Linked DNA regions of Homo sapiens: all the other regions are reported to be linked to region 1. Evidence: microRNA targets listed by miRTarBase, many of them from high-throughput screens and not tested one by one. Region 1 holds a microRNA gene; each other region holds the end of a gene's coding sequence.

Region 1 (7,118 bases):
TGAAAGTTACCAGAAATGTGTACCCATAATTTAAGCAGGGTAACTAAGTAAGCAGTCCTATAATAATATATGAAGTAGTGTCATGATATATTACCCCAAATATATATTTCATCCTGGTCTCTGCCTTACTGTCTCTGCACCAAATAAGGCCGGGCATGGCAGCTCACGCCAGTAATCCCAGCACTTTGGGAGGCTGAGTCAGGTGGATCACTTGAGGTCAGGAGTTCAAGACCAGCCTGGCCAACATGGTGAAACCCTGTCTCTCCTAAAAATACAAAAATTAGCCAGGTGTGGTGGCACACGCCTGTAGTCTCAGCTACTCAGGAGGCTGAGGCAGGAGAATCACTTGAACCCAGGAGGCAGAGGTTGCAGTGAGCCGAGATTGTGCCACTGCACTCCAGCCTGGGCAACAGAGCAAGACTGTCTCTCTCTCTCTCTCCTTCTCTAAATATATATATATATATATATATATATATATATATATATATATATATGCATTTTTTTTAAATGACATAAATTTACTGGAGTCATAGGTTTCAGAAAAGAGCATCTATGTATGGGAAGATTCCTATAGCTATTGTTGTGGAGACCTAAAGCCACCTGTTTTTAGCATCTCCTTTTTTAAAATCAAAATTACTACAGCAAACGTAAGGCATTGAAGATCGAGGTTTTGGTGTTTCTGCTGTGTCATGGACAGGATGTTTGTGTTCCCCTAAAATTCTTATGTGGAAATCCTAACTTCCAAGGTGACAGTACTAGGAGGTGAGGCATCTGACAGGTGATCAGGCCATGAAGGTGGAGCCCTCATAAATGGGATTAGTGCCCTAGGGAGCTCATTTCACTCTTTTTCTGCCATGTGAAGATACAATAAGTCACCAGTCTGCGACGTGAAGCCCCCTCACCAGTACCCAACCATGCTGGCATCCTGATCTTGGACTTCCAAGTTCCAGGATTGTGAGAAATAAATTTCTGTTGTGCATAAGCCACTGAATCTATGTTATACTTTTTATTTGTTTTGTTTTGTTTTTTTGAGGCAGAGTCTCGCTCTATTACTCAGGCTGGAGTGCAGTGGTGCCATCTCTGCTCACTGCAACCTCCACCTCCCTGGCTCAAGCAGTTCTCCAGCCTCAGCCTCCCGAGTAGCTGGGATTACAGGTGCTCTCCATCACACCTGGCTAATTTTTGTTTTTAGTAGAGATGGGGTTTCACCATGTTGGCCAGCCTGGTTTTGAACTCCTGACCTCAAATGATCCACCTGCCTCAGCCTCCCAAAGTGCTGGGATTACAGGCGTGAGCCACTGAGCCCCACCTGTTATACTTTTTTTTATAACAGCTCAAACTCATTTGGGGTTGGCATGTATGTTCTCTAAATTGACTGGTTCCCATGCTTTAAGTACAACAATGACCCTGCACCATTGCTCAGGTAATTGCCTCCTCCTGTAATGAGACTGCCCATCCCTAAAATCTCAGAACCTTCAGCCCTTTGGGTCCCCAGAGGCCCAGTTGACAGGCTACTTCCTCCATAAAGCTCTCCCCAAGAAATGAAGCCAGAGAGCCAGTGCCTCCTTCTGAATGCCTACTGCACTTACTGTGTATGTCCTTCAAAAGGATGGCTCTGGTGACCTACTGGCCTTGTGTGGAGGATGGTCCTGTGTGCTGGTCTTCTCTCTCTTCTACCAAACTGCAGGCTACTGGTGAGCAGGGCTGTACCTTACACACCTCTACAGCACCAAATAGGGGATGAGTGTTCCAAGAAAGCTGTGATTCACATGAATGTTTTCAGAAAAGAAGCCAGAATAAATTGTACACTATACTATAGATCCCTTAATCCTTATTACTGCAAAATACATTAATTGTGAAGCTTAAAGAACGTCCCCACTGCTTACACAACAGGTGTAGCTTACATAATCTGCTCTACCCAGCTGTTACTTACTTGTGGCAATTCCCTCCTGGCTTCTACTCCCTGTCGATATGTGGGATTACTGCACCATCCAGTATGATTTCCTTATTCCTTGCTCCAATCATAACAAATTTGTTAATTTTCCTTTATAACAGTAAAAATGGCTGAAACTCCAAATAACCAGAGATATCCCTAGGGTTTTCCATGACTATAAAACTCAAAAGACAATCCAGGATATAAACCAATATTTGTAAATATTGCCATAAAATTCATTGCTCAGAATTTTTTTTTTCCTATATAGTCTTCTTTGACAAAATACTGCAGTATTCCCACCATTTGGAAATTGTGTTACCCAAAAGGTATAGAATGGGATGAAGTGATGATGCAAATGAGTATTAGGACTATGAGCAAATGAATGGGAGCAGTAACAAAAGTCCAAAAGTCAGGAAAAATGAAAATCCACGAACTTGGCGATGCTCCAGAGAGGAAACCAGCAAGTGTTGACGCTAAACTGGCAGAAACATCAATACTTCCTGGCTCCCCCACTGGGTGCATCAATTTACCACCGGCAGGCTGCTCTTCTGCTTCAAGTGACAAACAGTAAGTGCTTTCAATGACAGTATGAAAAGGAATGACCCATAATCTAGAAGCATGGCTATGGGCAGCAAAGAAAAGATGTGATTGCTGGGAGTCTGTCTCAGCTGTACTGCTGATTAGCTTAATGATCTTGGACAAGTCATTTCCTTTCACTGAAAAAATACCAGTGTTTCACAATATTTGCGTGATGGAAAGAGTTAACATAGCAGGCCTGACACTGCTATTCTTAGTAAGGCCTGTTTGCAAGGTTGGTCCTTGGCTGGTGTCTGGGGACTTGGATTTTGGGAGGGTTTCCATCACCCTGATAAGAGTGGCTCACTCTGCTTAAGCTGTGTAAACAATAGGGTTTACACTGAATACCTGCTTTCCTCCTTGGGGTCTGGAATTTTGCTGTGTACCAGGTGGAGGGTGCCTGTGTGACCAGCTCCCACTAAAAACCCTGGGTACTGAATCTCTAATAAGCTTCCCTAGTAGACATTTCACACAAGTTGTCAAAACTCATTTGCTAGAGGAATTAAGCATGACCTGTGTGATTTCAGTGAAAGAGGACTGGAAGCTTGCACATGGTTTCCTCCAGACTTGGCCCCAATGAGCCTTTTCCCGTTACTGACTTTGCTCTGTATCCTTTTGCTATAATAAATCACATCCGCAAGCGTTTCTATGTACTGAGTTCTGCCAGTGAATCAACAAACCTAGGCCGGTTTTGAGGACCTCTGTCACAATTGGTATAGTGTTGAATAGTCTACCAAACGTTTTTTTCAACAGTCTTGTGAAATAGGTATTATTATTCCCATTCTATCGATGAAGAAACTGAAGTTCAAAAAGGTGAACAGAGAGTGTGCCCAGAAAATAAATATTTCCGTGTTTACTATATTATATATTGCTGTTCTCAAATTTTAGTGAACCTAAGAACCACTTGGAATGCTTGTTAAAAACAGTTTCTTGGAGTCTGTCACCCAAGACTTGGATTCAGTAAGTTCAAGGCCCAGGAATCTGTATTTATAGTAAGCATACAGGATTATTATTATTTGAGATGGAGTTTTGCTCTTGTTGCCCAGGCTGGAGTGCAATGGCACGATCTCGGCTCAGTGCAACCTCTGCCTCCCAGGTTCAAGTGATTCTCCCGCCTCAGCCTCTCAAGTAGCTGGGATTACAGGCCTGTGCTACCACTCCTGGCTAATTTTGTAGCCCAGTCTGAAATGCATAAGCTTCTTGGTGGCTGCTTCCTAAACTGATCATTCTTCATCTGTTATTACTGACTCAGACTGTGTTACCAATTCAGCTCAAAACAATTAAACAAGTATTAATTGAACATCTACTGTTTACCTGATGCTGTGCTAACTGCAAGATCATTTTCAAGAACACTTCTGATTTTTCCAAGAATACCTTGGTAAAGAGAAAGGGACTAGGAAAACATTGCCACATTAATACTTTATGACAACATATAATAGAGACGTCTAAAAAACAAATGATGATATCTGCTTGAACAGCAATATCATCAACATCACCAATCCTCCCATATTCCATTAAATACATATGGCACAAGAAATCAATGATTTCTACTTCACAAATACAGGTTAACCTTCTAAATCTGGAAATCCACGGTCCATTATCATTTATAAATCACATCTTCTATTATCAAGAAGTCAGCCGACCCAGTAATCCGTCCATACACTGCAATAATTGAGGGGCTGTCTGCCAATGTGTGGGCATAGGGCATCCTGTGCCCATATCTGCAGTGCTGAGCACTCATTCATCATTAAGCTGCAGCAGTGTTAACATATGCTGCAGTTGTGCCAGTATGTTTTGTTTTACGATCACCGCTAATCTACCCTTATACCAGGCCAAGAAGGTAAATGTTAAGTGAAAGGAAATAAACTCGAGAGCCAGCACCTAATTCATTTGTGGAAGCCCAGAACCTCCCTCCACCTAACCAGAAAAACTCCCCCAGTCTCGAGGGTTCCAGATGTAAAAGGTTCATCTGTATAAAGCACTACAGATGTACAGGAAATTCCACCACCTTGAAGAAAAAAATAGTATTTTTTTTTTATATCCCATGCATTCACCCTCTTTGAGAGAACTGAATAACCATGTTAGACAAGCAATGAGCCTTGATTTTTTCCATCACTCAACAAACCAGTATTTGATTTCACTCAGTGGGCTAGTTCTTTGCACATCATGCAGACACAGCAAGGTTAGTTATGGTTCTTTCAGGGGCCACTGGCCATCCTTTACCTCCTAGAACCCACTGCTCAGCAGGTGGTAAACTGGCAGCTTTTTGAAAAAACAAGCTCTTTTGAACAGTTGCATCAATATAAAAATGGCCAGCTTCACCTGCCCAAATCTCAATTCAGCTAAAAGTTAATTAGGAACACTGGAAACTACCTGGTATATAGGCACTCAATATTACTCACTAAATGGCTGAATTATTAGCAATAAGCATAAACAAAAGGAACAAACAGTAAACACTTACAGAAAGTATTCAGGACACATTCAGAGTTTTATGTTGCTTAGTCACTAAAAGGTAGATCAGGAAAAAAGAAGACAAAACCTGCTTTCACTTGTGTAAAGATTTATTTCAAGTTACAGTGGTTCATTTCTAAATAAGTTTCCCACCTTGCGTGGGGTCAGCCTAGCATCTATTTGCAAAAGAGCAGTTTGCCATGCGTAGGTCAGATGAAAGGAGACAAATGCAAGAAACTCCTTTTTAACTGACATCCAAACAACCAGAAAATAACTGATATTGTACAATCTATTTTTAGTAGAAAGAAAAATGACAAGTATGTAATAGTAACTTATTCACAAAGATCAAATTTCATGGTATGTCACAAATGTATTCAATGCAATGCAGTTACCATGCCCTCTATATCTATAGTTGTGTATGTAATGATAATTACAGCTCAGGAAGACAGGAACCTTGTCTGTCTTGCTCATCTACGACCCCAGGATTGACTGCAGTGCCCAGCACATAGTAGGTGCTCAGTGAATATTTGCTGAATGATAATTGCTCTGCAAAACCATACAATGCCTTAATCATCTAAGAAAGAGGCCAGGCATGCTGGCTCTTGCCTGTAATTCCAGCACTTTGGGAGGCCGAGGTAGGGAAATCGCCTGAGGTCAAGAGCTCGAGACTAGCCTGGCCAACATGGTGAAACCCCGTTTCTACTAAAAAATACAAAAAATTAGCCAGGCGTGGTGGCAGGCGCCTGTAATCCCAGCTACTAGGGGGGCTGAGGCAGGAGAATCGCTTGAACTCGTGAGGCGGAGGTTGCAGTGAGCCAAGATCGTGCCATTGCACTCCAGCCTGGATGACAAGAGTAAGACTCTGTCTCAAAAAAAATAACAATAAAAATAAAAATAAATAAAAGAAGGGGATATTTTGTGGCCGGGCTCATGCAGATGGCAGATCCTGGGACTTCTCAGCCTCTGTAACTGCATGATCCAATTCCCATAATAAATCTCAAAAAAAAGGAAAAAAAAAAAGATTATACTATGGTCAGTATAGCTTTCGGCATTAGATGTATTTATTCTAATTCTTAGAATACTAGTAATGTATACGGTATACCCCAACTAACAAGAACTCATTCTTTGCTCATTCTGCATAAGAGCGGGTTTACAATAATCACTATCTGTAAGTAAAGGTTATTATTTATGGGATACATACAAAAGTTGTTCTTTCAAAAAATATTTTACTGAACACCTACTAGGGACCAGGCACTGTGCTAGGAGCTAAGAACACACTGTGAACTGTCCCTGTCTAGGACAGCCTTTCTCAATTAGGGTTCCTTCACTCCAGCTGCGCAGGAAAATGTTAATTTATTACTAACAATGCATGTCCTAGGGCATCAGTGCCAATTCTCTCCATGTTGAGAAAGACTAGGGAGCCATACAAGTTAAAAGGCAATTATAACACAATATGATTTAAAAAAAAAAAGTTGCTTTTAAGTATGGTCAAGTTCAACTGCTAAACCTAGACCTCTATGAACAGCCATGTGGGAGCCGAGATACACAGACCATTTGTAATAGTTGTGCAAATGTAAAAATATTGCAATACATACATACAGATATATTTCTAAACACAGTAAAATAAAATCAATATTTTCCCGCTCGTCAATGTCAGGCCAGGATTATTAGTAAAGTGAAACAGAAAAAAAAAAATGTTTAATTACTCTGATAGTTTAAAGGGGAAACTAAAAACCTTCTTGCTCCTGGGGAAAAAACAAAGCAATTACCTGAACTATTTTCTTAATTGCCTCCATATATTGCTTCATTAGACTAGCCTTGCCTTGGACTCAAAGCAATAAATTAGCTACCTATTTCATTAATTCTTATTTTGTATTTTTTAGTCTTATTTTAAATTTCCATTCTTCCTTATGCAGTCTAATTTCTTCCTAGTCCTGGGCATCTTCTGTGTGATATTATGATTATATGCTACATGCTTTATGAAACCAAAGCAGTTTAAGGGCTTCTAGAATCAGAGATTTAAATGTACTCCAGTATTTCACACTCACAATTAAGCTTTCATGTATCAAAGGTCTAGAAATGCATACCTGTTAACTATCACTGACAAGCTAAACTGACAGCATCCTCTTGACCAAGCCCCCAACCTACTTTATCAAGA
Region 2 (7,118 bases), not on the chromosome of region 1:
TTGGTGCTGAAATGGGCAATGGTGTTAAGTTGACGCACTCGAGAGCCCACAGTCCTACCTAGATTCAGCTTCTACCTTCCTACTTCCTTACTTCCTACTAAAACTACTGGACAGCCACCGAACCTCTCTGGACCTGTTTCCTGCCTCTAGAAAAAGAGAGGTAGTGCTCTGCAGGGCCACGGGAGGACTCAGTGACGACTTGAAAGCATCAAACACAGTGGAGGGCTCATACAGGGTGCTCAGTAGATGGGCGCATCATTTTATAGAATACTGAGGCCCAGAGAGGGAAGGTGTCTTGTCTGTGGTCGCATGGGGGCTCAGTGGGAAAGCCGGGACTAAAAGCTGGCCCCAGGCTAGCTTTGTGCCAGGCCATCCTGCTCTTACACAGGGGCTGAGAACCAGGGGCAGCCCAGGAGTCCTGGATGGGGCAGCAGTCATGTTGGATGGGGCTGGGGTGTTGGCTCTCCCTTTCTGGGCTCTCAGGAGTGGTCAGGGCTAGCCCCAGATCTCCCAGACCAAGAAGAGGAGCAGCCTGTGGGGAGACACTCATGCCCTGACATGAGTCAGTGCATCAAGAGAGGCCATCAGCCAGTGGGATTCAGCAAGCATGCCTGGCGCTGCCTGGTAGGGTGCTGCCCATGGGAGGAAGAGAAGAGGAGCTGCCACCCATTTGGGGCCCTCCTTCTCTGGGTCCTCAGATTTGCCCTTCAGCCCAGAGTGTAAGTTCCACAGGGCCCCATTCATGGAGGCCTTGCCCATGCCCTCCATGCATTTCAGATACCCCTTTCTCAGGCTGTCACCTCCCACTGCTTTGCCTTTCAGCTATGAAGACCCCGCGGCCCTGGATGGTGGGGAGGAGGGCATGGACATCATTACCCACATTCTGGCCTTGGCACCCCGGCTCCTGAAAGACTCTGGGTATGAATGGGATGGGTCTCCTAGGTCTGTCCCCAGCAGGCTCCTCTGCTCCTAATGTGTACTGGGCAGGCCCTGGCAGAGGTCAGCACAGGACCCTCACCTCGCCAGCCCAAGCAGCCCAGAAGGGCAGGCGCCAGACCTGTCCTGCTGAGCCCACCCATTTCTCCCCCATGTAGTAGTATCTTCTTAGAAGTGGACCCAAGGCACCCGGAGCTTGTCAGCAGCTGGCTTCAGAGCCGGCCTGACCTGTACCTTAATCTTGTGGCTGTGCGCAGGGACTTCTGTGGGAGGTAAGATCCTAGCCCCCTTTAGCCCTGTAGCATGCTGGTCTTTCCACTGGGGCCATCCTCAGCCCTGGCTGTCAGGAGAGTGTGCTGTTCCCACTTCCTGTTCATTCCCTGAGGCCCAGGTGGTAACCAGCCCCTGTCCCTGTCTCCTCAGGCCCCGGTTCCTGCATATCCGGAGGTCTGGGCCATAGCATGGCTGCCCTGTGGATGCCTTGTCAGTGCCGCCAGCCTGACCAGAGGGGAGGTGGATGGCACTTTCCAGAGCCCAGGTTCTTATGGCATTTCCCAGGGTTCTGTGATTTCCCCATGCTCTGCATTTCTAGGATATTTCTAGGACACCTGGATTGGCTCCATCACATCAGAGTGGCTGAGGGCAGTTGCTCTGTGTTGGTGAAATTGCTGTGGGGGTATCGGGGGATATGGCCAGTAAAGTATTGAGAGACTAACAAATGGTGACCTAATGTTTTGTCCATGACTTGCAGGTCCCCTGACCCCCTTACTCCCAGGTAGCACTGGGGCAAGGGTTTCCTTCTGCCCCAGCAGGGCTGGCCGTCAGTCCCCTGCTTGGTAGTGGTGTGGGGGTGCAGTGTGGAGGAAGGCACGTGAGTCCTCACTCCTGGCCTTGGATACCATGGGTCCTGGCATAGAGCAGCTCACTCCCAGGGATTGATTAGTCCTCCACTGCCCTGGGTGCATGCGTACACAATTCCCTGGCCAAGCCTGGCTCGAGCACAGGAAGCTCATCTGCGTTTTGGCTCAAGGATGACTGCCTGCTTTCTGGAGGGGAGGGTCTGGAGGTCTTTGCTGCACAGTTCCTGGGTCGCACATCCACGTTCATTTAACTGAAGGCTTGAGCCAGTGAGGGGTGTTTCCTTTTTATCCCCATAGCTTTTAGCTAAAACATCCCTCCCGAGTTGACCCCCTGGGGTTTCAAATAACCCATGTGTCCCTGGTTGGGGCTGGGGAGAGTGAGAAGCTGAGATACTGGGCACAGGGTTGTGGCCTCCACCCCAGCTCTGGTCTGTGCAGACTCATGGCCACCAGGAGGCCTGCAGATCCAGCCTTCCTGTCAACAGCGACAGGAAATCTCTAGGTTGGTGAGTGCTGGTGATGTGAGCCTACATCAGGGTGGGTCCTAAGAAACATGGCAAACCAGGCTGTCTCATTCCACTAGACTGCCCCCTGCCACCCTGGCACTTCCCAGGGCCTGGCAGTATGGTCTGATGGGCAGTATGGTCCAATAGGCAGCATCCTCTGCTGCAGCTGGGAGAGCTGAGTTCCAGGGCTGTGTCCTGCAGTGGGACCTTGGGCAACTCCTTTCCCTATGAGAAGCTGGCTCTTCTGAGTCCAGGGCCAACGCCAACTGGCAACCTCTTTACTCTTAGTCAAGTGGAATGTGCATGCTGGCATCTGAATGTCCATTCGCCAGGCATGGAGAGCAAGAGAAGGTATGTACTGCCTGAGGTCACATGACAGTGACCAAGTGGAGACAGTAAGTTAGATCCCTCCCTTTGGGGAGCCTATATTGCTGGAGTCATACCCAGCCTAAGTGTTGCCCTGCACTATGGCTGGAGGACACATTTGGTAGAGGTCACACTGCAGCTCCCAGTGCCCCAGTGTCCTGCCCTGTGCCCAGCCCCAGCTGCATGGACTCTGAGCTGCCCCTGGCTTCCTTTAAGGAGGCTGCTCCAGAAGGAACCTGGGTGGGGAGGGCGAAGGGGGTGCACAACCAGGGCAAGGCTCCCCACTTCCTTAGTCCCCCATGCTCACAGACCTTTGCCTGCTAAGGTCCTCACCAGTATTGCCCTTTCTGTCTTTCTCCTTGTGCCCTTTGGCTCTTGCTGTCTTCAGCAGCATCTCAGGGTAGCTGCCCTGACCTCGGAGCAGTCTGTCGCCCCCCTACACCTCAGCCAGTCCTGGCTTCCCTGATGGTCTCTCCCTCCTGGCCTCAGGCCCATTCCTGAGGAAGGGCCTTGGCGAGCTTGTGGATGTTGCACCAGAAGAGAGTGCAGTGTTGGAGAGTGACACTGTCGGGGCAGCTGGGGCCACAAGCAGGAGCCGGCCTCGGGCACAACTTTCTGCCCAGAAAAATGTGCAGCTTGACTCTGCTGAGGAAAAGGTCCAAGCCAAGAGGACTGGCAGGCGGGGCCTCAAGCCTGCAGCCACTGGCTTGATTGGGCCCTGGACGTTGAGCCCAGATGTTGGAGCCACACCAGCCTGGATTTCAATCCCAGAATCTGCCCCTCACGAGGATGTGACCTTGGGCAGATGACTTCACCTCACTCAGCCTTGGCTTCTAAGGCTGAGAAATGGGACTTAATGCTTTATTTTATAGGATGCATGTGAGGAGCCCATGGGATGTGCCTGGCTTGGCACATTGTGGCATTTTTCCTTGCCTTCCTCGGAGGGCAGACACAGGGAGGAAGGACCCAGTGCCCTCAGGCGTCCATCTGATGCATGGGACCAACATAAGGCAGGCAGGGATACAAGGCAGTCTGGAAAGAAGGGAAGGCAGGAGTTTCAGTCTTGGGCTCTTGACTCCTCACTGTTGTCTAGAGATGGAGCCAGCAGGCTGGTAGCCTGGCAGCCTACATCTCCCCTCAGCCTCTCCTCACTATGGCCCCAGTGCCTTGAGGCCCAGGCCAGGGCAGCCAGTGGCTCTAGCTCAGGGAAAGCCAGGCCCACCTGCCCTATCCCCTCCCTTGCTCCTGAGGCCAAAGCCAGAGACTCGAACAGCCTCCCCACCACCACCAGCATATGTCAAGGAGCACTTGCAGGCAGAATGGGAGGAGGACATGGAGCTGATGGAGTCCAGGCTGTGCAAGCCCCTGAGGTCTTGAGAGATGTGCCCACTGCCCGTGCAGCCTCCTTCAGCCAGAGCCCAGAGCATAGACAGGAGTGTAGGAGTCCCTGTTTGATGTACTCTGGGAGAGTAATTCTATCTCCTCTTCTGATAGTTGGGGAAACTGAGGCCTTGTCTCACAGTTGGATGCTTTTCCCAGTTGTCAGTGGGTTTCTCCATGGGTCTCATACAGCTGCCTTATTGAAATAGGCCCCGAACCCCCTAAATGCAAAAAATACTCTTTTTTGCTCCTTTACCCCCACCTGGACCCTGGGCTATTGGCTGCTCCCAATCCTTGCCCCAAACACTTAGCTGGCTCCCCATGACTTAAGTGTGTTCTCTTGTGTCCTATGGAATCCAGTTCTGAAGAGGTGGGGGAGGACAACTGTGGGAAAAGCCCTGGGGGCCCCTCCCAAGGCCCCATCAGTGCTCTGAGTAGGCTGTCATCAGAACAAAGGGCTCCACTGCTGACAAGGTTTGAGAACTGCTGGCTTGAGGTGAGAACCCCTTTAACCTCTGCGGGACAGCATGTCTTTCCCTATCCACCTTCGATTCTTTTCTCTTTTTTTTCTTCATTGGCTCCTTCTTAGTGGATTCTCTTCTCTACTGCCCTGGGCTTCAGCCTTTGTGCAGTACTCTCGATGCCCTGAACACACACCTTCCCTTTGCCCAGGCGGTGCAAACAATCCACTTCTTCAAGCTCCAACACAAATGCTGCCTCCTTTAGGATGCCTGCTCTGTGCTCTCCCTGCCTCCCCTAGCCCATACCTCTGCTGGCACCTTCTGTACCATGCCTTCAGAAACCTTCTTATCCCCCTCATCTCTGGGGCCCCCTGTGGATCTGGCATACCCAAGTTCAGTAAATGTCTATCAGTAAGCTGATGGTACATGCATTTTCTAGAATAGAGCTGGGACTTCCCATGTGGCCCACATCTGACCTGGCAGCCCATGTATTCCGGTCATTAGGGATGGGAAGCCATGAGGACCTGGCCTTCTGCCCGACCCAGGCAGCCATTCAAGTTGAGCAATGGCCACTTCGAAGACTCAAGTGCACCTGATCCCTGCGCAACAGCCACACCAGGAGAACAGGCTGTCCTTGGCGGCAGTAGGAGCAGGCGCCAGGTTTCCTGGAGCTCTTGGCTTCAGCCAGCCCCCAGCCAGAGTCCTGGCTAGGACAGTGACCTGATCTCCTCCTCATGACCTTCTGCCCTGGACAAGCCCCCTGAACTGGATTTGGGACTGTCAAAGCAACTCTACCCCTGCTCTGGTAGGCTGAACAGTGACCCCCCAAAATGGCAGTGTCTTAATCACCTAAACCTTAACATGTGACTATATTACCTTCACATAGCAAAATGGACTTTGCAGATGTGATTAAGGATCTTGAGATGGAAGGAGTATCCTGGATTTTTCAGGTAAACTGAGTATAATCACAAGGGCCTCTGTAAAGGAGGCAGGAGTGTCAGAGTGACGGAAGAAAATGTATGTAACAATGGAAGCAGAGGTCAGAGTGATGCAATTGCTGGAGGAAGAGCCATGAGCCGAGGAATGCAGACAGCCTCTTCTCCTCTGGGGCCTCAAGAAGAATGCAGTCCTGCCAATACCTTGATTTTAAGCCCTGTGAAACTGATTTCAGATTGCTGACCTCCAGAACAGTAAGATCATAAATTTGTGTTGTTTTCACATGTGTGAAAACACATGTGTGATAATTTGTTACAGCAGCCACGGGAAACGAATATAGATTGTGGTGCCCAAATTAGAGTGCTGCTGTAACACACGCCTACTGATTGAAGTGGCTTTGGAATTGCAACGTGGAAATGGGCAGAGGCTGGAAGAATTTTGAGAGTCATGATAAATTGCCTTAACCACCTCTCTTCTGATAGGTGATGTGGCCAGGGGAACTCTTCCTCAACCTTCAGACCTAAACTGCCCAGGCCCCCCCTTTTTTTACTCATATTTGGAGAGAGGTGGCCCTTTCCCAGAGTGAGAAGACTGAAAGACTGACCAGCATGGGTCCCAGAAGGGAGTGGGTGAGGAATGGGACTGGGATGTGGGGAGAAAGTGCAAGGCTGGCCTCCATGGCCCATCTCCAGAGACTGGGTCCAGAGAGGACCTCAGAGACTGGGACCAAGCCTGTTCCTGCTCTCCTGTGGAGTTATGTGACTGGCCCAGGACCCCTTGGGTGTGTGAGGATGAGCAGGGGCCCTGTACTCTCTGGGTTGCAGGTACTGCATCTGTGAAATGAGCACAGCAGCCCCTGACTTTGAGCTAATGGGCCTGGCCCCTCCATGTAAGCCATAGGCCTGAGCAGAGCTGTGTCACCATTCTGTTCCTATGGTGGAGTGGGGCTATCCCTGGGGTTCTCAACCTCCTGGTTCCTAAAACTGAATTGGCCAACTGGTGCCCTCAGCCCTGTCCCTGTCCAAGCTGGGACTAGGACCTCCCTTTCCAGGGGTACTAAAGGACTCTGGAGACACCATCCCACCCAGCCAAGGCTTGGGGCTCCTGAAGCCAGTCCTAACCCAGGAGCCACATGGAGAGCTACTGGGAGGCCAGACATGGGCCTCATGCTGGGTTTCAGAGCTGAGAAGCTGGGGGACAGAGAGCATGGACACCTGGGTTCAAGGGTCAGCTTGGCCCCAAATCACCTGGATACGCTTTGGATGAAGCCAGGAGGGCCTGTTTATACTGGAAGGGGTGGATCATGGCAAGACTTATATTCAATCCCTGATCTTTTTTCCCAGAGAGGGATGGGGCTTACTTGAAGTAACACAGCACTTGACTCCTGACTCCCAGTATGATGCTCTCATCTCCTATTGCTTCCAAAGGCCTGGGGTTAGTTAATTAAGTCAATTAGGTGGTGCTCATATGGCTGTCCATGTAGCTACTAAACCCAGGGATTCTGGCCCATAAAGCCCTCTGGGCCAGGTTTATGGGCAGGTAAGAGTCACATTAGGCCAACTGTAGCCCTGGGTGTGCAGACAGATCTGAGTCCCATCTGAAGCTCTGGTAGCTGTGGGAGGAGAGCAGGATTTCCCCCGCTTGCGGAATGAGTGGGTGCCTTCCCCTCTGAG
Region 3 (7,118 bases), not on the chromosome of region 1:
TGGAGCTCCCCGCCCCCCGTGCTCCGGGAGGACCAGGAGACCTGCTCCATGGGCCAAACCGCCTTTGCCCATCCCTCCCCTGACCCCTGCTGCACGGTTCCAAGGGCTTGGTAGGGCAGCCTGAATTTTCCCTAACTCCCACTCCTAGGAAGGTCAAATTCACCTTGTTTGCCTCCTTAAAAATTCACAAATGCAGGACTGAGGCTTTTCCTGAAACCAGAGCCCCGGCAGCCAAGGCTCAATAAAATACTGTTTGTGTTTCCAGGCACTGGGGTGGGAGCGAGGCTCCCAGTTGCTCAGAGTTAACCGGCCCTTTCCCGAGTGAGACCCCGCGAGCACTCGTCAATTCTCCCATCACCCTCCATCGCCGCCTGCTGGGGGGGCCTGAGGTCCGGAGCTGCTCTTCCTCCTGGCAGCCCAGCCTGCAGGCCTAGTGCTGTCCAACCACAGCCCAGAGGGCAAGGCCTCCCAAAGTGGGCGCTTGCTGAGCCCCTGGCCAGCCTCCCAGGACCCTCAGTCCCCACAGCCCCCATCCAGCTCTCTTTTACACCTTCCCCTCCCCCATCTCAGAACATGGGAGAAGCCGGGCACACTGGCGTCTGCAGGCTGCCCTTGGGCTGCCACGGGGCCCTGTTTGCCCAGCACAGAGCCTGCCGTGCTTTGACCCAGCAAGTCCCACCGCACCTTCCAGAGGCACTGTACAGCGTGCATCTGTTGTCAGTACAGTTTTATTTGCTGTGGAATCCATGAGAGCCGGAAGCATCGTTGGGGCCGTGGCTAGCAGAGCTCATGGTGACCAGTCCTGGGCCTGACCAATGGGTGATTACATTTAAAAACCAAAACAAAACAAAACAAAATACCAAGAACAGATCACTTGCCATGGACATCAGTAATCTATTGGTAATGGTGGAAATTTCATGAAAATTTCCCCTAAACCATAACAAAAACTGTCCTCCTTACCCCAAAAGTGCTGGAGGAAAGATGGTTGCATGACTTGACCTCTCTTTGAACTTGAAATGCTACCTTCCTACCCGGAAATGCGACACACTATACTTAAAAGGCCAGATGGCTGCAGGCTGTTTGCACCCCTGGCTCTGCCCAGGGACACCCCTCTCCTGGTTCTAATGCTCAGACCCAGGAGGCAGAGTCCGCAGCCCGAGGGAGCTTCAAGGCCGAGGGGTAGGACCTGCAGGGCCCACACCACCCTTCTGATGGAGAGCTTTGCACATGCATTCACACACACATGCCTGGCGGGATCGCAGAGGATGGGTCTCGTGGCAGGAGTGGGCAGAATGGGGTGCATTTTACAGAAGAGTCACAGAGAGGCTCGCCCTCGGCGGAGGACACACAGCTGGGTGGGCGTGTGGGAGTGCAGGTGTGCTGACTCCGAACCAAGGGAGAGCTCTCCGTCCTGAGCTCGCTGCCCCTCACGATGCACACGGCTGATGGCTGAGGTCAGCGGTCTCTTCCCTGAGTGGCAGGTGTGGTCCCTGGGACTTCATAAACCATCCTCATGACAGTTTTACACTTAGAGTCCCCAATGCACTCCCAGGAGGTGGCCTGGGCAGGCAGGCATCATTATTCTCATGTTACAGGTGAGGAAACTGAGGCTGAAGGAGGCAGAAGGCCACATACCCGGGGAGAATCGCAGGCAGCAGGGGCCAGGCCCCTTCCACAGCACTGCCTCTCACCCTTCTCCCGACCAACCCCCAAGGGCATGCCTCTGGCTTCATGAACCTTCGGGGGAAATTAGCTTTCTAGTTTGGGGGCGGTTCCCTCTGACTGGAGACAGGACAGAATGCTTTCACACCCAGGAACGGCCGTGCAGCCTGGCTTAGAAACAAGGGACGAAGTGGATCCTGAGGCTCATTCCCTGGGGACTCCAAGAATGGGGCAGGCCCAGCTGCGCAGCCAGTCCTGGCTCCACTGACTTAGGCTGCACCCCTGCACATATGTGTGTGTGTGTGTGCATGCGTGCGTGTGTGCATGTGCGTGTGTGTGTGTGTGTGTGTGTGTGTGTGTGCGCATTTTCCCAGGGGACCTCTCCTCCTTCCTCTGAGGCAAAGTGGCCTGCAGGGGCCCCTGCAGAGCATACAGGGAGGTGCTTCCTTCCCTCTGCCCAGCGAGCAAAGGGTGGAGCCTTGGCACCCCCAGCAACCCCCTCCAAGGGTGGAGCCTTGGCACCCCCAGCCCCCACCCCGCAAGGGAAAGGGGAAGCTGCACGAGGAGCAAGATTTCATTCCCCAGAGGGCACAGCTTGGGCAGATTCCCATCATCTAGGGGCTGTGCCCCACATCTATTTCTGCCAAACAAGAAGCAGACGAGGGGGCTCAGGGGGGCGGGCCTCACAGGAACGGAAGCACCACCCCACCTCTATTCCCTGTGGCCTCCAAAAGAGCTGGGCAACCTCTGCCAGCCACTACCCCTTAGCCCAAGGGGAGTCCTCATTCCAGAGCCAGCATCTTCATCTTGTCCTGATGCCCTGCCCACCCCCGCCGAGCTTCACACTGGGCTGCTATGGAAAACTGAAAGGTCAGAGGGTGGAGGTCCTCTCCCTCCTGGACATGGAAACCTCCCCCTGCCTGGCACTTCGGCTGGTCAGGAACAGTGGCTGCTCATGGAGCTGCCCTCCCACCTTCAGACCCTCCTCCTCCCCCGCAGGGGTGGGCTGGGGCCCTCCCTCCCTCTGTACTTGATCCATGACTTGTGAGTTCTGAGTCCTCAGGGCCGAGACTTGAGTCAGAACCTTCTGGAGCAGTACGCATTTCCCCTCTGCACCTGGTGAGGACACCAGGCTCCTCGCTTCCTCCCCAGATCTCTGAGTGCTCACCCGACCCCCCAACCCTGGCGGGACCTTCCAGGGCTGGCAAGCATCGAGCCTGACCACGTTGCCTCTTGGGTGCCAGCACGCCCACATCAAAGGTGTCCCCTCTTCCCAGAGGCCCTGAGCAACATCGGGCGACGCTGTCAGCAGACATTAGCAGCAGAGCTGCACCACGCATCAACTTTTAAGTATGCGCACACACGTACGCCAGCCAATAACATTAAGTGTCATTTTAAAAAATGGGTTAAATAAGCAGCATTGCTGAGGATGGCCGTGCAGGGCTGATTATCCCCTATTTGCACGTTCTGGCGGTGGGAAGGCTAGAAGTCTAATGACTGAATTATCGCCCTAATGCCTCTCGCTGGCTGGGAATAATCCCGGGGCAACAGCTGCCGCGGGGTTTTTGGCTGGTTTCCTCTAATTGCATCCAGATTAAGGGAGTTGTGGAGGGGCGGGGCTTCTCCATCCCCCGCGGAGCAGCGTCTCCTCCGCCAAGCCCTGAACACCCAGCTCATGGCTTCCGAGGTCCTGGCTGGTCCGAGAGGTGCAGACCTCACTGGGGTCCGGGCCAGCCCATGGGGAGCGTGAGGTGCGAGCAGTGCACGGTGGGGGTGGCACTTGGTGCAGAGATGCAGCTGATTGGTCCGGGTCAGGTCTTGGGGAGCAGCAGGGGTGAGAAGCTGTAGGGCCAGGAGACTCAGAAGGAATGCCTTCTACTAGGACCTTCCCAAGTGAGGGGAGCCCTGGACCTGTCTATCCTCTTCCTCCCTCCCAAACACAGCGGTTCAAAGGCACGAGGTATCTAGTGAAATGCTAGGACCAGGGACGCTATTCCCCTGGAGCAGGCGGGTGGGGAAGGAGTGCTCCAAAGCAGGCATTATTAGGACACAGACTCTCCAGAGTCCCAGTTGTTTAGCCCTCCAAATTCTCAGCCTACTGCCACCCGACTGTGCAGAGCGGACAATAAAGTGGCAGGCCTGTCCCCCACCCCTTAATGCTGAGCCCAGCCACGTGACTTGCTGTGGCCAAGGGGAGAGCTGCAGGTGTGGTGTCCACCAAGGCTTGGAAAGGCACTTGCTGTCTCTCCCTCCGTGCCTTTGGCTGTGCCATGGCTGGCCTGCAGGAGGGATGCAAGAGACCACAGAGCAGGGCCAGGTCCGACCTCTGCACCATGAGCATCCCCTGGGACTTAACAACCCACTGGCCCTAAACAAACAAGCCCAGCCTAGACCAGAAGAATCACCCTGCCCAGACTGCTGACTCCTGCCCTAGATCAGTGCTGACTGTTGCAGGCCACCGAGTGTTGGCGGATTTGTTACACAGTATTGCTGTGGCAATGGATATAACTGGTTTCTAGCGGAGGGTCAGGGCAGAAGCTCCAGCCACCTCCCTAGCCCAGAAAGGCAACCCTCTCTTCCCAGAAGCAACATGGATGAGAAGCCCACCCCATTCCCACCACAGGATCCCCCACTGCTAGACAGCAATGGTCGGTACCCCAGGATCTGGGCACTGATGGGGCTCCAGGACGGTCTCCTCAAAAGGCTCTTAGGCAGACAGACCTGGGAACTTGGAAGTACCTGCTGGACGACCTGGGTTCATGGAGAAAAGAGAAGCCGAGAAGGTGGAGGAGGCCGGTAAGTGGTGACCTCCGCTTTCCTGCTGAGGAACACTGCTTTGAAGTGGCATGGCCCAGCAGTGCCCACCCTCCAGGGAGAAAAGCTTTGAGTGGGAAGAAGCCTTCTATCCTGGTCCCCATGATGGTTCTCAGCACATCAAGGGTTTTTCTCCCCAGAAGGACGCGATGGAGGATTTCAGGAGGGATTTGGTCTCCTCGCTCAAGGAGTGGCTTTCTGTGCAAATGGCTCGACACTTCTAAGCTGGCTGGGAGTTCTCACAGCATAGATCGCACACCCTTTTCTGTCCATCTCTAAATCCCAGAAGGAGCAACTGATACACAATCTTTTGGAAGAGGGAGAGTCTGTTGGGAAGACCTCATTCCCACATAGAAGGCAGAGAGCCCTGAGTGCTGGCTCCTTCACTGTGGTCGCTCTCACGTCCGACCACCTGAGAAGCTGACTTACATATCTGAGTTCACAGGTCCTGAAGGGAAGTGGAAGAGTCTAACTATTTCCAGGTGTCCTTGTCTTGGTTGGTCAGCTAATACACTACCACGTCCCTGGGACAAAGCAGATCATTGTCAGAGGATCTTGCAAACACAAACACGCACGCACGTGTGCATGCATGCATGCACGCAGGGACACACGCACACATCGACCCATTCAAGCCCCAGCTGGTTGCTGTATTTGGTGGAGTTGACCTTAAACAACGCCAAGGAACCTCACGTAGAAGACCCCCAGCAAAGAAAAAGGCATCAGATGCTTCTCCAACAGCCTGAGGCTCAGGCTCCTGGGCAGACAGTTCCCTTCGTGTACCAGGAGGACGAAATGTTTAAACGGATAAACATTACAAGCGCCAGCTCCTCAAGCCTGACTGCTCTTCCGCCTCTCTATCCCCACATCGGTTGGGCTTTTTATCTTTTGCTTTTCTTTTATGGCAGATGCCTTTCCATCGGCATCCCAGCTGTGGCTGGGGACGTTTTGGGAAGTGTGTTTGGCTCACTCCGAGAGAACGAGGTCTCAAGAGGAAGTGTGTCTGGCTTGCAAAGATGTCCCTGGGCCTGGACAGGACCCCGCTGTGTTCTGCAGCCCTCGACGCAGTGGGTGAGTGAGGCCTTCCTCTCCTGTCTCTGCTTTCCTCATTGCCTGGCGACGCTGTCTGGCTGCCCTCGAGGGTGGAGCAAATCCTGGGACATGTTGAAATCCTCCAGGGCAGCCAGCAGGAGAGCCCAGCCAGCCTGCGTCTCAGGTGCGGTGGCTGCGCGTTCCACTGCAGCGTTTCAGGAGCTGACTTTCCTCTGGGTGGCTGTAGATCTGACTTCTGTCACTTCCAGACTCTAATTTTGTCATTAATATGAAAAGGTTCCTCTCATGTTGCCCAAAAGCATTTTCCTTAGGTTTCTACCGTCCCCTGTCCCCTTCACGCCCAGCCCCACCCCCTCCCGTGCCCAGGGCCTCTGAGGAGGTCCCCTCAACCCCTGTCCGGTGTCGGGGGCCCGACCTATCTGCGGAAGCCGAAGCCGTCCTGCGGCGTCTTTGGGCCCTTCTTGCCTTCCCTCAGGGACTTGGGGGAAGGCATCTCCACCGTGCCCCCGTAGGGACAGCTCTCCGAGCCGGGATGGTGGCCGGTGCACTCCACCGCGGGCATGGAGCCGCTGTCCCACATGCCTGACCCGCACAGCTTACACAGATCGTGCAGGCTGCAGGGGATCCGGGGCAGGAGGCGGAACTGGTACAGCAAACTCCTCGCCTGCAGACAGAGGACGGGGGGTGAGGAGGGGCCGGGGGACAGCCTGGCAGCCTAGGGTCCCCATGGGAGTGGCCAAAGACAGCAACAGCAGCAACAACGGCCTGCACCTCGGGGGCTCACCGAGTCCTGGACTGAGGGCTCTGCCTGCATCTCCCACCATCACCGGCACCACGGGGCCCTGGGTCTTAGGTGGCTGCAGTGATGGGACCCACAAGGCACTCGGGCTGTGCTCACAGGTGGCTCGAGGTGAACAAGGCCCTTGAATGGGCTTCATTCAGGAGGGTGAACAGGACCAACACCAGCACAGGGCCGGGTGGCGTCCAGCCAAGCCCACCTGTCCCTTTGGCAGCACCCCTCTCTTCTTCCCCCGCACCTTGCTCCACCCCCCACCCCCAGCAGCCTCTCAGCTCCTGCAGGATCTGTGTCCTGTGCCAGAGGACACCACCGACCTCGGGACCCCCGCTCAGTGCCCTGAGGACCACCAGAGAGCTAACGGGCAGCATCTCCAGGAGGCGTCTGGGAAGTGGGGGAGGGGGCCAAAGCCCAAGGTCCCCAGTATTCTGGCCACCCTGTCCCCAGGTCCAGCCTCCTTCTCAGTGTTCCCAGTTCTGGGTTGTAAGCGAGGTACCCCAGGGTAGGGAACCTGTCCTGTCCGTCAGCCCCGGTGAATTCGTTCCCTCCTCAGCCAGCGAGGGAGGCTCCTGTGTCAGGGCTGGCACCCCAGGAAAGTGAGGTGACACAGCCAGGCCGAGACAGGTGCTGACCACGAGGCCTTAGTGGGGAGCCCCCAGTGCTATGGGTGGGGGAGGGCACGTGCTGGGGGGCCATGGTGGGGATGGGGCTCTGGGGGCGGGGCCCACATCTGGGGCAGCCTCACCTTTCTGAGAACGAGCTGGTGGGGTGGGGCTTTGGGGGCGGGGCGGGGTGG

What was found. The annotated mature microRNA hsa-miR-505-5p reads GGGAGCCAGGAAGUAUUGAUGU and lies in region 1 at 2,421-2,442, opposite strand. An mRNA with a match to its seed (bases 2 to 7 or 8) in the 3' UTR can be bound and repressed. Matches are read on the target gene's strand: a 7mer-m8 pairs with bases 2 to 8, a 7mer-A1 pairs with bases 2 to 7 and ends in A, and an 8mer does both.
Region 2: miRTarBase lists HEMK1 as a target of hsa-miR-505-5p. Seed matches in the 3' UTR shown: 8mer at 1,551-1,558, 7mer-m8 at 4,361-4,367, 7mer-A1 at 4,505-4,511 and 7mer-m8 at 4,624-4,630.
Region 3: miRTarBase lists TBC1D16 as a target of hsa-miR-505-5p. Seed matches in the 3' UTR shown: 7mer-A1 at 2,171-2,177 and 7mer-A1 at 2,135-2,141.

The regions. Positions count from the first base shown.
Region 1 is chrX:139,921,776-139,928,893 of GRCh38, forward strand. It overlaps MIR505 (microRNA 505), which reads right to left and starts at 2,456; the gene lies at 2,373-2,456. All of the region lies in intron 1 of ATP11C (ATPase phospholipid transporting 11C (ATP11C blood group)), which reads right to left.
Region 2 is chr3:50,579,022-50,586,139 of GRCh38, forward strand. It overlaps HEMK1 (HemK methyltransferase 1, mitochondrial release factors N(5)-glutamine), which reads left to right. Exons shown (of 11, transcript NM_016173.5): 9 at 823-918; 10 at 1,095-1,208; 11 at 1,360-7,118. The coding sequence ends at 1,396. Among named protein-coding and RNA genes, the nearest start is that of HEMK1, 13 kb to the left of the region's middle. RefSeq lists enhancers at 2,771-3,272, 3,273-3,772, 5,129-5,647.
Region 3 is chr17:79,934,918-79,942,035 of GRCh38, forward strand. TBC1D16 (TBC1 domain family member 16) reads right to left here. Exons shown (of 12, transcript NM_019020.4): 12 at 1-6,190. The coding sequence ends at 5,942. Among named protein-coding and RNA genes, the nearest start is that of LINC01979, 12 kb to the left of the region's middle.